Regions from separate parts of the Homo sapiens genome. Here region 1 is linked to region 2. Evidence: fine-mapped expression QTL. Tissue or cell type: visceral fat. Region 2 holds a variant in brackets; the other region holds the start of a gene. All regions are shown on one strand. Distances are from middle to middle.

The links. PIP is the estimated chance that this variant, and not a neighbour inherited with it, causes the effect.
Region 1: PTCHD1 starts here. The variant in region 2 is fine-mapped to the expression of PTCHD1 in visceral fat (GTEx, PIP 0.98).

Annotation. Positions count from the first base shown.
Region 1 is chrX:23,331,035-23,339,199 of GRCh38, forward strand. PTCHD1 (patched domain containing 1) reads left to right here and starts at 3,815. Exons shown (of 3, transcript NM_173495.3): 1 at 3,815-4,192. The coding sequence starts at 3,842.
Region 2 is chrX:23,367,513-23,375,688 of GRCh38, forward strand. All of the region lies in intron 1 of PTCHD1 (patched domain containing 1), which reads left to right. Among named protein-coding and RNA genes, the nearest start is that of PTCHD1, 37 kb to the left of the region's middle. The variant G/C (reference allele first, on the strand shown) is at 5,097.

The sequences.
Region 1 (8,165 bases), 36 kb before region 2:
GGGTTGGTACTATTGTTATTCCCATTTTTCAGAAGAGAAAAATTGTGCCATAAAAAAGTAAAGTTACCCACTGCATTTTAGCTAATAAATAGTGGAGCAAGGATTCAACTCAGTGGCTACAGAACCAAAAGCCTCAACTTCTACATTATATTGCCTATGTGTACAATAAATGATCGACAAAGGTTGAAAGGTAGTGTGAGTACACCGATACAGGTGTTTTTGTTTCCTTCTTTTTCTTGTTCTTACTTTCCAAATTGTCTAAAATTAATATGTATTAATTTTAAATCAGAAAAGGTAACAATTTATTAACGTACTGGTGAAAGCTCTGATCACAAAGTCATTGGCCCAAATGCAAACCCAAGTCGTTGGTGGAGGCAATGCTCCCCAGAACTTCTACAAAAAGAGAAGAAAAATCGGGGGGAGGCAACACCCTTCCTGCACTCTTACGTGTGGGCTCTCTTTCTCTCTCGCCCCTCTCTCTCGCCCCTCTCTCTCTCCCCTCTCTTTCGCCTCTCTCTTCCCCCTCTCTCTCCTCTCTCTTTCCTCTCTCCTCACTCTCACTCTCTCTGCTGCTCCAATTCAATTTAGACAACACTAACGGGATTGCCTGCAGTAAAAGGTGGCCCAAGGTCCACACTTAGTTGGTTCTGTCTCCAAATTGAAACATACAGGTTAGAAGCTCCTCCAAATATACATAAGGACAGTTAGGAATAGAGTTGGGAGGACTAGAAACAAATGCCTTGGTCCCAAAGGAAAGGCCTTTTCTGTGTGGGAGGACAACACTCTCGCCCTGGCCAGCTGAGCAATGCAGTTTCTCCCGCTCTAAGATTCAGCCCAGGCACTGAGGGAGGGCACTCTGTTCTTCAGCCCTTGTGAGGGCTGACATTAAAAGGCCGGAAATTCTAGGGACGAGGGCGAACCGAGGTTGGAAGGGAGCCAATCGGAGGGTCAAAGACTTCAGAATGAAAACAGCTTCGCCAAAATGTTAAAGGCACCTAAGCAGACCTGTCGGCTGGTTTTCCTTCTCTTACTTTTATCCCTGCGCTGGCATCGGGGCACATGAAACAGCTCTGTTCATTCCCTGTGCAGCGACCGATTTTAGGCCTCCTGAGAAGTGCCCACCCACTAGCTGCCGCTGGCTCAGTCGCAAAGAGCTGGGTTCGCAGTATTTCCCACCGCCACCCCTCCTCCCCGCCCTTCCATCTTTCCGTCTGCCCGGGCTGAGAGCCACGCAGGGCATCCACCCTGTCATTTAGCACCTCGGCTACGCAATGGTGGGTGGTTTCCCAAAGCGCGTGCCCTCGCAGCCACTCGCGCTCGCCTCGCCGCTTGCAGGGGCACAAGTCAATGAGGCTTTTCCCTCCGCGATCATGGTGAATCAGCAAAGCGCTGCAGAGCAGCGGCACCTCCACGAGCAGAAATTAAGATGCTGGGGGAACGGCACGAGTGGAGTGTGGCAGGGGAATTTCTAGCCCCTTCCAATGTGTCCCTCCCAGGGACGGCGATACTGGGGGAGGGGAGTCAGCTGGAAGCTGCTGGACTTAGGCGTCGCGGGGAGCCTCTGGAAACAGAGCAGTGTAGGGAATAACGAAGATGAGCACAGAAAGTGGACGAGAAATGGGTGGAAGGATCTAGGGAGCACAAGCAGAGCAGGGCAGGTGCGCCCCCGGGGTGGGCAGCGCAGCAGGAGCAGGTGTTGCTGAGGAAAGGTAGGAAGGAAGTCCGGTATGGGGGAAGGGAGGAGATCATCAAATAAGGAGGATTTCCCAAACCGCGACTTGCTGTTTCCAACGTGCAAGTTCCCAAGTTCAGTTTGAGAAGTGAAGGGCCGCTAGGTGTAGGGGAGTCTGGAATGGGAACGTTAGGGAAATGCCTCCCCGAGGCGCATTCTCCTACCCATTCTCCTCTTTCTTCCCCCCCCCCCACTCCCCTTCCTCTTCCTGTCCCTATTCGTCTTCCTTCAGCTTTGATTAATATGCATGTCTATGCTCCGTAGTGCGGGCCACCGCCTCCCGTTCGACCCCTGGCACTGGGAGACTGAGCTGTAGCGACCAAAGGCTTGGGATGGGGAGGCTGAGCGCTCAGAGCGCGGAGTCTGAGGACCCCTCGCCGCGCCCTGTATCCCACCCCCCTGGCTGGAGAGAGCGCCTCAGTGACCCAGACTCCGAGATCCCGCTCGGTCTGCGTTGCAGTGGACAGACCCAGGAGCTTGGAGCGCGAAATGAAACGCGCTAAATTGTACCTGTGCGTGGCCGTTCCCGCCGCCGCCGCAGGTCTATCCCGGGGCCGAAGCCGGCGCCCGCCTTCTCGGGGAATTCTCCGGAGGGGGAGTGCGAGGGGAACCACGGTGACTGCCTGCTAGCTCACGGCTGGCGCGCACACGCACACGCCCAACTTTGCCAAGCCGTCGGCGCCCCGCGGGCTCCCCCGCGCCCCCTGCGGCTCAACACGCTCGGAGACCTGTATCTCTCCTGCTCTGAGATAAGGTTCCCTCCACTCTCACACCTTCGCATGTAGGGGAGGAGAGGGCGGAGTGAGGCAGAGAAGGGGGTTAATGCTACTGACTCCCTGGCCAGCCTTTCTCAAACACTCTACGCCCGCAGGGGCGCCCGCGCCAGCCACGCCGCACCAGGTCCCCCAGACCTGCTGGTGACGACAGAGAGAGGAGGAGGAAGAGAAGGCAGGGCGAAGAACCGGGAGCCGGGGAGCCCCGGAGCTCGGGAGCCCGGGAGCCCAGGCGACGGACAGTTCCATCGACTGACCGTCATTATCAGCACTTTTATTACTAAAGGACTGGGTGGGAGGTTGGGGGGTGTGCAACAGAGCTGGCCAGCCCCAATCCACTCTGGAGCGACCCTAAATTAGAGCCACAGAGAAAGATTCTCCACGGATACCTTTTGAGTGGACGTGCTCCAGACACACACCCGGACCCCGTGGTCCCGCCGAAGCTGCAGTGTTGGGGGTATTTTAAACGGTTCTTATTTGGAAGGAGGCGTGATTTCCACGTTCGAGCGTCTTCGCTCCCCACCCCCTCTCGGCACCAGCCAGTGCGCGCCACCACCTGAGCCTGGCGAGAGCCGGGACGCACGCAGTCTTCAGCCTGCTCCTTTAAGCCTCTGGAGAGACTCGGCTCTGAGCGGGTCCGCCCGACACCCGCCCCCTCCCCCCACTCCTGAGAACTCTTTACTTTTTGTTTGGAAAATCGGGGCCATTTCTTTATTTATCTCTGGGTCTTCCCGGAGGAGGGCAGAGAAGGGGAGAGCGAGCTTGGCGGGCCGGACCGGGGGAGGGGAGCGAAGGGAGGGGAGGGGACTGGGTGTAGCCTGGAATTCTCCGTCCTCGTGTTCCTGGGCGGGCGCGCAGAGTCTCCTGGCGATAGCGCCGTCGCCGCTCCCCGCGCCACCCCGTCGTTGGCCTTGGGGGTCGGGTGAGTGGGGTCATGACGAGCCGCGGGGGCTGCCCCGGGCCCCGCCCGCGCTGAGAGGGGACGCGGCCGCGCGGCGCGGAGCCCCCCTGGCGGGGAGGCCGCGGGGGGTGGGGAGGGCGCACGCGGTAGGGCGGAGTGGGGGCGGCGCAGAGGCCGCCAAGCTGGGGGGCTCTCCGGGAGGGCGCGGCCGCGGGCAGGAGGGCGTGTCTCCGGCTCGAGGGGACCCTCCCGAGGCGCGGCGCGGGACTCCCCGATGGTGGTGCCGCGGCTCCGGGAGAGCTCAGGGTCTCGCCGCCGCCGCCGTCGCCGCCGCCGCGGGCGCCGCTGCCGCCGCCGCCGCCGCCGCCGCCGCCGCCGCCCGAACCCGCGCCGAGCGTGCGCCTCGCCCTCCTCCCGCGCCCGCTCTGCTCTAGGATGCTGCGGCAGGTTCTGCACAGGGGCTTGAGGACGTGTTTCTCCCGGCTCGGCCACTTCATTGCCAGTCACCCTGTCTTCTTCGCCTCGGCGCCGGTGCTCATCTCCATCCTGCTCGGCGCCAGCTTCAGCCGCTACCAGGTCGAGGAGAGCGTGGAGCACCTGCTGGCGCCCCAGCACAGCCTGGCCAAGATCGAGCGCAACCTCGTTAACAGCCTCTTCCCGGTCAACCGCTCCAAGCACCGTCTCTACTCGGACCTGCAGACCCCCGGGCGCTACGGCCGGGTCATCGTCACCTCCTTCCAGAAAGCCAACATGCTGGACCAGCATCACACCGACCTGATCTTAAAGGTGAGAGGGGACGGGTGCGGGCAGACTCCGCCAGCGCCGCGGCCGCGGTCGGGCTGGCTCTGCGCTGGGGTCCCGGCTGAGAGCGCCACCTCTCCTAGCCCAGGCAGCTGCCGCAGGGACTCTCCTGCACCGCGCGCCCCAGGGCGGCCGACTGGAGCCTCCCAGCCTCCTGGACAAGGAGCGTCGGGGTCCGGGTCCGGCCCTGCCCGCGTCGCCTCTACCGCCACCCCGCAGCTGCTGCAACAGTTGGGGCGGCGGCGGCCACAGTGCTGTGGTCGGTGCGCTTGTTTTGGTCGCAGTGGGCTTGGGGGTGGGGAGGCTTTGGGGTAACTGGGCCAGCAAGGAGCAGAACGAGAGAAGACATTCTGGAAAGTCCTACTACTTGAGAACAAAATACTATGCTTGGAGGGGATTCCGAGATACCCCTCCCTGTCCTCAGTTTTGTTTCTCCCTTTTTCTGGCCCCCCGGAGTGTTTGGGGAACGGTTGTTGGTGTGGGATGTTGGGAAAGGACAAAAGAATGTGAGGCGGGATGGTGATGAAGATGCCTCCCACCCACCCAGAAAGAAGTGTGGTCTCTGGCGAGGACAGGGGGCTGCCCTGCTGCTCTCTTCTCCGGAGCGAGGTAGCCATCTCTATCTTCTAGGGTATGAAATTATGTTTGTAATTCGCAGTTCCTTCGTCTTTCACAGTAGCTCCTCAAGAAATGCCAAAACTTTGGGAAAAGAGGGAACCGATCAATCCACTTTTATTTGGGTGCATCTGAGCATGGGGGTGAGGGGCAGAGCCCGAAGGGTGAGAACAGAAGCCAGGCTGTGTGACCCCGAGAAGAGCACAGGAAACCGAGCAGCTGGTTAGAGGGTGACACTCGCAGAAACCGGTTGTGCCATCAGCTTGAGGTGGGAATTTGATGTGGAAAGTGAGGTTAATGGTGGTAACTTTCAGGAACTTCCTAAGAAAAGCAGAGGAGTGAGGACTAGAGATGGAAAAGTGGAGACCTCGGGAGAGAAAAGTAAAAATAGGTGAGAATGTTCCATCTGAATCCCTGATGGGGACTGTGGGGCTTGTTTACTTAAGGTTCTCCTTTGGGGAGGGCAGACAAGAACCAGTCCCAGCTGGGACTCTGGTGCAGAGGGATGGAAGGTGATCGTTTTGTGTGAGTCTCTAGTCCAGATCTGGTACTAGAGGCTGGTTAGATTTCTAGTCTACTTATCCCAAGGGGAGTCTGCCGGGAAACCTGGGGAACTCTTTCCTCTTCTTTTCCTCTACAGGTAATAGTTTATCCCTAGAGACAAGCTAATTTTCATTATTTTCCTATGTCCGTTTGTTGACATGTTATCAATTAGCAATTAGTAATGAGGGGAATCTGACTAGGGGCTCAATGGAATTAGGATCTTCCCACATGGAGTGGCTCATGATATTTTTAATGGCACACATCACACATTTACTCATCACAGAACCTTAATAACATTAATCCCGAGATGTTTGTTTTTCTCATGATTAGACTTCCAGCATCAAAGTGGTTTTCTTTTTTCTCTCAATACTTTAGTGACTATATTTTGGGACACAGATAAATACTGCTCCAAAAGCTTTCCCACGAAAACACATAGTAGATTCATCATGGGCATAAGGAAACTGTAATTTAACCAGTTCTGACAGTTGGAAATGCCCCGTCTTTTGATTGATGATCTACTAAATGATATTTCTCTTTTTGTGTTTTTTCAAGGTGACGTTTCCATTGCCTTTCCCCCCCCACCCACAAACCATCACACCACTGTGACAGGCAGTCACCAGTTACAGTCACTCTCAAGGTTAATGAGACATCAACAAGCATTATCAGATCTCTTTTCAACTGGATTACTTCTTCCCTATTTGATTTTGATCAGTTCAGGACAGAAAACAGTGCTATAGGAGAAGGTTGAGACTGGAGAGACGGAGGCTTGGTTTGCCTCCATATCTAAAGGGCAACTTTAAAGGACAATGGTCAAAAATCAGTGGATTGTTTTAAGAACTGGGATGGTTTTTCATCTTCTAGGTGTCTGAGTAAAATCAAAACCAAGCCTAGCAGTGGTCCGAACTTATTTCTAGCTGATGACTCTCTGGTCAAATGAGTTCATACAGCTTATAAAAATCCAGACTTACGGAACCAAGGAAATAACTGTCTTCAATTTTAAATTATATGTTTAATTTTTTCTTTCTGCATCCAGCCCCTACTTTTGGTAGATATGGAGCCAGGGGACAGGAAGATGGACCTTCATTAGTCATGGTAATGTAAAGTGTGGGAGTGAGCACTTTTTTTTTTTTAATTTTTTTCATTTAGAGACATGATGACTTGTCCTTTAGGAAAGGTGTCAGGAGTGAAAGAATCACTGTTATTGTTGTTACTAGTGTTATTCTGATGCTTCGTTACTGGCATCAAGGATAGCATTGACAGTTAACACTACACAACACCCAACAGTCCCTGCCCCCTGCCGGTTTTATGGCGTCACATTTGAAATGAAGTGAAGTGGACAGAGCATGAGCAGGTCTGAGGCTTTTTCATACCCCAGTACAGAACTGAGGAGGTGACTTGTAGGGCTGTGTAGGGTGTTGCTTCAAGCATGAAGAGTAGACCCATTCTCTCCTCTTAATGTTTTGGGATTGTACCTGTGCAGTGAAGGAGATCCTTCTTGGGATATTGGTCCCACTATTTGCTGACAAAAAAAAAATAGACTGGGAGGGAGTGATGACAGAAAACGAAAAGCCAGGTTGACGTTTTTAAATGTAATTGAGAGTATTACAGAAAAATATCTGTATTTCAAAAATCCAGCTGATCTGGTTTGGAGGAGCTTTCTCGAATATGCGCAAGTGATATGATTACCATACTCTGACCACTGTAGCTTAGAAGTTGACCCCACACTGTGAGGCATGACTCCCCCCAGCGTTGGTTTCCCCTGAAGGCTACAGGGCAACGATGCATTATTAGGCAAAAGTGGGTAGGACCTGGTGGTGCTGATAAGGGCTCATGCAGTAATTTCTGAACCTCTTTACATACATGCTGCTCTTCAAACATCTTCCTTTTCCTAGAAAATTAAATTTAGCTGATTATATCTTTTAACAGAAGATCCATGATGTTCATCTCAAAGCAAATTTCAAAGGAGGGCCTCACAAGCTTTTATAGATACGTTTCGTTGCGATCACCTAAAATGAAGTGTAAGTAGGTCCCTTTGATAATTGATCCAGGCTGTTAACAAAACAATTCTTGATTTATTCCGGAATCATCTATTTAAAGTGAAGAATCAGTACAGCCCAGTACTTATGATAATGACATCATCTTTATAGGACTTTATAGGTTAGAAATATACAGTATGTTTAAATACAGTAAATTGGGAAAAATGCTATATCCCATTTTACATATGAGAAAACTACTTCTTAGAAGTTAACTGACTTGTCCATGGGAAAAAATACAAGGCTAGAACCAGGACTGGACTGGACCCAGGGTTTTGGACTCCAAGCCCAGTGTGCTTTTCATTGTAATTTACTTTCATATGATACACTACTGGAATGATTTAAAATGTACATTTTTGTTATCCAAATGAAGTACAGTTGACCAAAGTTTTATATCCCATCCCATCCAGTTGTTCTAATAGTGGTAATTGGATCATAAGAATATTTTTCTTGACTGATTCTGTCTAGTGTCAATTAAAATCCACATACAGAAACTCCAAATACCCAAAGTAAAGCATAAGATATTTATAATTAACAATATACAAGGATAGAAAGAAGATTTTTTTGGAAAAAAAATCTCTGGATGATTGAATGTAGCTGCTTCCTGATTGAGTGCTGCTCATTGGCAGGGTCCAGGTTGACTGAACTTTAGTGCCTTACACACTCCCTGGCACATAATAGCTACTCAATAAATACTTGTTGAATAGACCCTCCCTAGTTTACTCAGACATTTATGTGATGAGTTAAAGAAAATTCCATAAAAACGA
Region 2 (8,176 bases):
ATCTGTCAATTTCAGTAGGGCTGGCGTGCTCAGGGAAGGTAGATGAAATGTTCTGAGGGTCCTATGGATGCACTCCACCTCTAAAGTAGCAAGCAAAACCAGGCTGCAGGATAACTGAATCTTGCAAAAACATCCGAGTCTTGACGTGGAAGGAAGTTGCAATAGTGGGAGCATAGGTGTGGTTGGAAGTGATTACAGACAAGAGGAGTTTTTCCAAATTATTTTCCTGGAGACCTTTATGATGACAGGATAGTATCACGTGCAATATTCTAGGTTCCATCAGCAGCAGTGGGCTACAAACCAAAGGACTGTCACCTCAGGTCGGCTGTGAGGCATAAGCAGATGAAGTTACATCAGTGCTTGCATCGTCTGAGACATCCAGAGATAGGAAGGGTATACAACCTAGTTTGCCTGTGATAGTCCCATTTTATGCCTATTGTTCCTGTGAAATTAACACTGCCCTCTTGCACTCCCAAAAGTGTTCCAGTTTGGATGATAAATTATATGGTCACACTACCCATCAACAGCATTAACAGGAGGAGCAGAATCTTCAGATAGACATGGATGGTAGGTACATAGAAATTCTTACAATAGTCTCCAGACTTCTGTATTTAAAAAAAAAAAAAAAACTTTTCAAAATAAAAGGAAATATGAAAAACAAATACACTTGAAAAATTCAAACTACCCTATGATTAAGCATAGCACATAATTATTTCAGACCTCAGTTGCCTACCTAAATTGTTTCTCTGCTCTTATTTTTTTAGATTATAGTTTAACCATATCCATTTGTCTAATGAGATCAGCCATTTGTCTGCAGCATGTAAGCAACAGGAGCAAATTCAATGTCATCTGTTTATTTAAGATGTAAATGATATGCATGTAGCACAGTAGCCTTTGGGTACAAATGAAGTATCATTCAATGTCACCGGAGAAATATAAATCAGCAAGAAGGAACAAACACTAAAGGTTTCATCAGCACATCTTTGTTGTGCTCCTTTTATGTGCCAGGCACTACTCTAGGTACTTGGGATAGGATTGAGCGAAACAAAATCCCTGCCGTCGTGAAGCATATATATTCTAGTGTAAAACTCCCCGTGGGGAGAGATGATACCCAAGTCCTATAAGACCCCCAACTTCAATCTGATATTTTCAGTAAATCCACACACCGCAAGCCCCTTTATACAAATATGTTCTGTAAAGTTTTGTTTTGTTTTTTTCTTTTTCGTCGTGTGTTTCTGAGGTCAAGGGGTTATATAAGAAACATACATGGCCGGGTGCGGTGGCTCACGCCTGTAATCCCAGCACTTTGGGAGACCAGGACGGGTGAATCACCTGATGTCAGGAGTTCGAGACCATCCTGGCCAACATGGTGAAACCCCATCTCTACTAAAAATACAAAGAATTACCCAGACGTGGTGGTGAGCAACTGTAATTCCAGCTACTCGGGAGGCTGAAGCAGGAGAATCGCTTGAACCCAGGAGGCAGAGGTTGCAGTGAGTCGAGATCATGCCATTGCACCGCAGCCTGGGCAACAAAAGCAAAAATACTCCGTCTCAAAAAAGAAAAAAAAGACACATACATGATGCAAAAGATGCTATTTTGACTGATGAAAGTCTTCTCCCTTTTCACATCTGTTTTCTTCATCTCCAGCTGTTTGCGCATGCTTGTCATTGGTGATGGGCTTGTGGCTTCTTTCTGAGGTTTCTGTTGTAAATATCTGGCATTCACTGGGTTTTACTGTTTAGTACTGGTCGGAGTTTTGTTGCTTTTCTAGACTGCTTTGTCATGTTTGACCCCCGACTTTGCTACCTCATCACCATCTCCTGCTGTGAGTTGACCACGTTTAAGCCTAATACCAGAAAGCAAATTTATCAATATCCAAATGTCCAAAGCACAGAGATTAGGGGATAAAGTCTTTACTTTTCCAGAAGAACTCTCATTAGGGGACAATTTTCTGAGCCCAGGATTTAAATCTGGGCTGATCCACTTACTAAATTTGTGGCCATGGACAAGTTATTTAAGCTCCTAGAGGCTCAGCTTCCTCACGCGCAGATGGAGGGGTAATATCTACCTCCCTGATTTGCTGTGAGGGTTAAATAAGATGATAGATTGTAGCATTCTTTGCACAATGTCCGGCACTTAGCAAGCACTTAGTACCTTTTAGTTTCCTTCTTTTACCCCTACCATCTTTTCCTGCCTAGACTGGATTCCTTTAATTGATGTGCACAGTTATCTAACTAGAGAGCTAACCTGCAGATGATGGGACAATTTTCAAACTTGGAGCTTATACTGGGATTAAGGAGGGCCAACTTTAAACACATACTACCCAGCTGTTCCCTTCAAATATTTGTACTGATCCATGCTTCTAACCCCATTTACCCCTTAGTCTTTCAGCAAAGATGAGAGCAAAAATCGGTCACCTTTACATTTCATTGAATATACTTTTCAAGAAAAATGGAGGAAGTTTCACTATTTAAAGGAAAAGAAAGTTGAAGTAGACAAGACACAACAGAAGATAGAAATGGGGTTTTCTGTTTGTTCATTTTGTCTTTGCTATCAGACATTTACTGGGTACCACCTGTGTTTCAGAGACTGTACAGAGCAATTTACATTCAATTTCTGATTTATCCTTCAACAATCCTAATGAGATGGGTACTATTATTGGCCCCATTTTACAGATGAATAAGCTGAGGCAAGGGATAGCCATTACATAATAGCTTAGTGTCCAGGATCACACATCTCCTTAGTGCCAAAGCTGGGATTTGAGCCTAGGCAGTCTGATTCCATCATGCCAAACCATGCCACCAACATCAGCACCTCCCAGAAGGGTCGAGGCCTTTGCAAGCCGAGTCATAGAAACTATCATAGTTTGACCTTTTGCCCTGTGAGACCTCTTTTCAGATCAGGAAAGGGAGGGCAGTGGCTGAAATGCTCCTGTGATTTTTAAGGGCAGTAGCTTTGTATGAGAACCTTGAGAACAGAGAAGAATTATTGTCAGGAAGAAATGCACTGTCCTATAATACGTTATTTTATGAATTACAGGTACTCATCCTTGGTAAGGCTTATGGTCCATCATTAAGGAGAGCTGTTACCATATCATTAGGTGGAACTTTCTTCTTATTTTTTCTTTCATCAGCCATAATTTCCATTGTTCTCAAGTTCAGTGCCCATTAGAAACATAGCAAATCCTTTCAAAGAAAAAATGTTACCAAAGAGCTCATCTGATGAAGACATTTGTATATTTTTTGATTTAACAGTATTATTATTCAGTTTCAAATATCTTGGGGATGTGGGTTATATGGCATTTTGATTTTTTTCATAAGTTAAAACGACGGGAATGAGAAGATTTCTGAGATCCTTCCTAGCCCAAAACTGTTGTCTTTTTTCTAAAATCCTGCCCTGATACCACCAAACTGTCTCTTGGAAACCAAACAAAATTGTCTGATAGCCCCCTCAGGAAGCTCAGGTTCTGACAGGACTCTTGGGGAGGAGGAGAGGCAGGAGGGGAAAGAACAAACACTGACGAAAGCTCAGGTAGGTGACTCACATAAAATTGCCGCTATTCAACTACTTTTTAACCTATAGAAATGGCAATTTCATATGGTTTAACCTAATACTAAATGCCAGGCCAGACACCTTTTATAGGTAATCATAATGACTTTATGAGGTAAGGATTATTCCCATAATTCAGATAACAAAACTGAATTAAAAATCTAAATTCACTGTCTTAGTTGGACCTCCCCCAGAAGCTAACCTGGAGTCAAGCACTTCATGAGAGTACAATATTTGGAAGATAATCCCAGGAAGCACTGAGAAGAGAACAGCATCATGAGGCAGGGAAGAAAAGCCGTCGGCTATGGAGGCATTGTCAAGCCAGCTACTCTGTGGGCAACTGGAGTTTAATCCTGCTGGGGAACTCTGGGAAACAGTGAGGAACACATGTTGTAGGGTTATCCCATTTAGGAGGACATGTGAGCTGGGCTGTTCATACACAGACTGTCTTTAGTCATAGGTCCAGCCTGCTTAGAATTGAGATAGTATGTTAGTGCCCCAGTATTTCCACATCAGGCTGGAAATAGATATGATATGTGCACTGAAGTGGTAAGGATGAGGGGATATGCGCAGGGCCCAGCTGTGTTATGAACAGAGGCAGGATTTGAACTTGTGGCATTCTAACCTCATAACCCATGTCCCTCCCACAAAAGCACAAGATATTGTCAAGTCGGGAAGGATTAGGGGCTCCAGGACTCAATTGTAGATTATGTTTGGAAGCTGTAAGACCACTCACCAGAGGAGCTAGCATCCATGCTTCCTGCTGTATAATAATACAATTGTATTTGTGTAGCTCTCAAAAGTTGACAAAATGCATGCACACTCATCATCTCATTTGGCTTTCATCATGCCCATGATGAGACAAACTAAAGTCCCTTTACTCATGAGATTATTATATTCATGTGTTTACTTCACAATTGTTATGTGTTCCAGGCACTGTTCTAGTTAATGGAAATGTAGAGGTGGACCAAACAGAAACACATTCTGGCATGACAGAACTCATATTTGAATGGGGGCAGCAGAATAAAAACAGAGATGATGATAATGTCATGTCATGATGGTACCATGAAAAAATTAAAACAAGAAAAGATGATGGTGATGGGCAAACATACTAGTGTTTTTTTTTTTTTAAATTAGGGGTGAGCTCAGGAAAGATGATTGCATTTAAGCAGGGAAGTAAAGGCAGTGAGAACAGAAGTTTTTTAAGTGTCTGGAAGAAGAATGTCCCAGGCAGAATCAAGAGCAAGACGAGCACTGCAATGTGAGAATAGCGAGATGGGAGTCCAGAGAAGAGAGGTCAGCAAGGAGAATGTTTCATGTCAGGCGCCAAAGTCAATGCTCTGAGCATGATGAGGAACTCTAGGGGAATTTAAAGCAGGGAAGTGACGTGTTTTCATAGGTTCATTGTTTTGTTTATCTCTAAGTCATGTGGTCAGCAAAACCCAGAACCAGGACTAAAATTGAAGCCTTCTGACTCCTGATACAGTGCTCCTCCCATTCAGGTCCATGGTTGGTCATTCTCTAGACCTGAATGTCCTTGGCAT[G/C]CTGTTTTTCCTGTTCCTGGCATGGTTATTTGTGGTCTGCTAATCAAATCTTGTAACAGCTGTTGCCTGTTCCCAAGCCCAAACATTTGGTTCCTTGGGACTTTCCTTTGCCATTTGTCCAGCCAATCAGCTTTAACATTCTCCTGTTTCTGTGAGCATCGGGTCCTCTTAGAGCTATCCAACAAAACTCTTCACCCACAAGCTAGCTCAACTACAGCTTAAGCTTGACCATGAAACTCAAGTGAGGATTTAGGGAATTTAAAAATAGCCACTCTATCAGCCACTCTAAACATTCTAATCAGAAAGTTCAACTTTACAGACTGCCAAGTATCTTCATAATATGAAGGATTTTTTCACAAATCAAGACCAAGTGAAATTTTCTCCCAGACTACGGGAATAAAGAGATTGTTGAACCTGTGGTTCACTGTACTGACTGTCTTATCCATACCAGTGTGGAGTCAGGCAGAAGTTGCAATGAGATACTGCAATTGCATTTTCCTTCACCATCACTATTTTTTGTTTCTAAAATCTCAGATTTCTCTGCTTCAAATCTAAAGCTGCCTTGTTTTTTCAGCCAAGCCTGCAAAGACAAACTCAGCTTGTTTGGAGAGTTACAATAAGGGCTGTCTTGGCTGCTTTTCAGTGTCAGTACCCGCAATAAGAGTGTTTACCACCTTGTAGAGTAAGGAGCAAAACAGAACTATTCAACTCTCCCAGACCTGCACTAGCATTGCATTACTGACAGAGGTAACCATTTGTCTTTTGTCACTGGAGCAGGTGAGCATGGCACCAGGCACACATGTGCAGAGGAAGTGTGTGGATAGATAGTCACTTGTTTGGCTATATCCACAGCTTAAATTTGGTGTCCTCTGGAAATGTAATATTTCAAAGGCAGGATGATATTTCTGTTCACTTATTAAGGGATGACTAACTTGCTTTTGGCTGCACTACAAATGAATCACGGTAACAATCCCTAACTTGCGACTTCTGGTGTTCTGATGTAATGCATTTCTATTAAAAGAAGAGGAAAGAGAGTGGGTGAGAGTGAGATCATGCAAAGACAGAACATAACACCAAGGGAGCTAGCGTAATTTATGAACTGCTGCAGCCAGATCCATCCACTTCAAGGTGTTTTCTTGCGTCCTGAGTGAGGATACCTTGCCAGTTAGCACCTGCCCATTTACAGTTGCAGAATATAGACCCAGATCAAGACATGTAGTTTGGAGGGATTCAGTGAAGGGAACATTTTATTTAGGGGTGAAAACCAGATATTCCTTGAAAGCATTTTTAAGCAGTTTTGATTGTGTCACTTGGAAGGTAATATTTGGGGACGGATGATATAGGTTAAGAAGTCAAATCATAATCTTCCTTTTTACATTTTTTTAATGTATGCAGCTTATTTGGGAGTAGAAGAAGTGGGAAGGGGGTGGAAACGTGAGACAAGGAAGGGAAGACAGCCTATAAAGGGGGTGTCATCAGGCTAACTCCCACTGGAGGTGACTGGAGCTCCATCCTGCTGCGACATGGGGAACCCATACGAACTCCGAGTCTTCCCTCACAGATGAGATTGCTTGGGGACTGTTTGAGGCTGACCCCAGAGCATGTTAATTGCCCTGCATGGGCAGAGTGGCCTTCCTCCTTCCCTCCTCCCTTTTCAACAAGAAACAAATACAAAAAAAAAAAAAAAAAAAAAAAAAAAAACCCAAAACCCTGCAAGGTATTGTATAAGATCCTCTAAACCCACAGGTATTTTTCCTGTGTTAATCACCACTCAGGAGCAGATACATCCTTCCTCCCTTCTGTACTGTCCTCTGCAAAGTGTCCCTGCTGTCTTCTGAGGAAGATCTGAGTGTGCCAAGGAGAGGCAGAGAGGAAATTAGACTCTGGCCTGTCGTGACCAAGCAGCCCACACTGGCTTTGTCCCAGGATCTGGCAGAAGGGGATTATAAGAGCCAACGCCTCCCCAGAATGGGAAATCACTCAGAGAGGGAAATCTTTTTTTTTTTTTTTTCCAGTAAACCTATATTCTTTACCGTTTTCCTTCTGGGTTTCATCTATCAGATCGGATTGCCCTGAAAAAGAACTTCAGTGTGTCAGAAAAGCATACCTCAAGTAGCCGTAATAATGTTCAATTTGATATTTATTAAGTTAACTTTCTCTCACCTGGTGTCTGATTATGTAGTTTGTGGATATCACTCATCTTAGAATTATGTAGTGTTAAAACTGGAAGGGTCTGTCCTTAAATATTAGCTAGACCAACACCCTTTTTAACTGATAAATATGAGAACTGAAGTTTCAGACTTAAAGAAGCAGAGTGGGATTCCTGAAGTTTCTGACACTCTTAAGGTAGGTAGTGGAAGCGACACTGGAAGCCAAAACTTTTTCTTACTGGATTCCATTGTGCCCCAGGACCTTTTTTCTTAGGAAGCCTGTCTTTGAAAAGCTTTATTTAGCAACACCAGAGGCTGGATGGAGATTAAGAAAAATCGTTAAACTCTAAACCCATCCCCTTCGTTACCTGTTAATACTGCCATGTAATGTTGCTGCTGTCTGAACATGAGTTTAGCTGTTTGGATTATTTCTGGTCTCTCTTATTGGACCCCAGATCTCCAATTGTGGCCATCCCATAGCTCAATCATATCCACTGCCAGTCACTTGAAGCAGGTGGGCTGACAATTCTTTTTTTTTTTTTTTTTTTTGAGACGGAGTCTCGTTCTGTCGCCCAGGCGGGAGTGCTGTGGCGCGATCTCCGCTCACTGCAAGCTCCGCCTTCCGGGTTCACGCCATTCTCCTGCCTCAGCCTCCCATGTAGCTGGGATAACAGGCGCACACACCACCACGCCCGGCTAATTTTTTGTATTTTTAGTAGAGACGGGGTTTCACCGTGGTCTCGATCTCCTGACCTCGTGATCCGCCCGCCTCGGCCTCCCAAAGTGCTGGGATTACAGGCGTGAGCCACCGCGCCGCCCGGCCGGGCTGACAATTCTTTATCCACCCCCAAGTTGTCTTCATGCTCACTGCTGAATTTGTTGGTGTATGCTAAGTGTCCTGCTGTGGAGTAAGACTTGAGAATCAGGTCT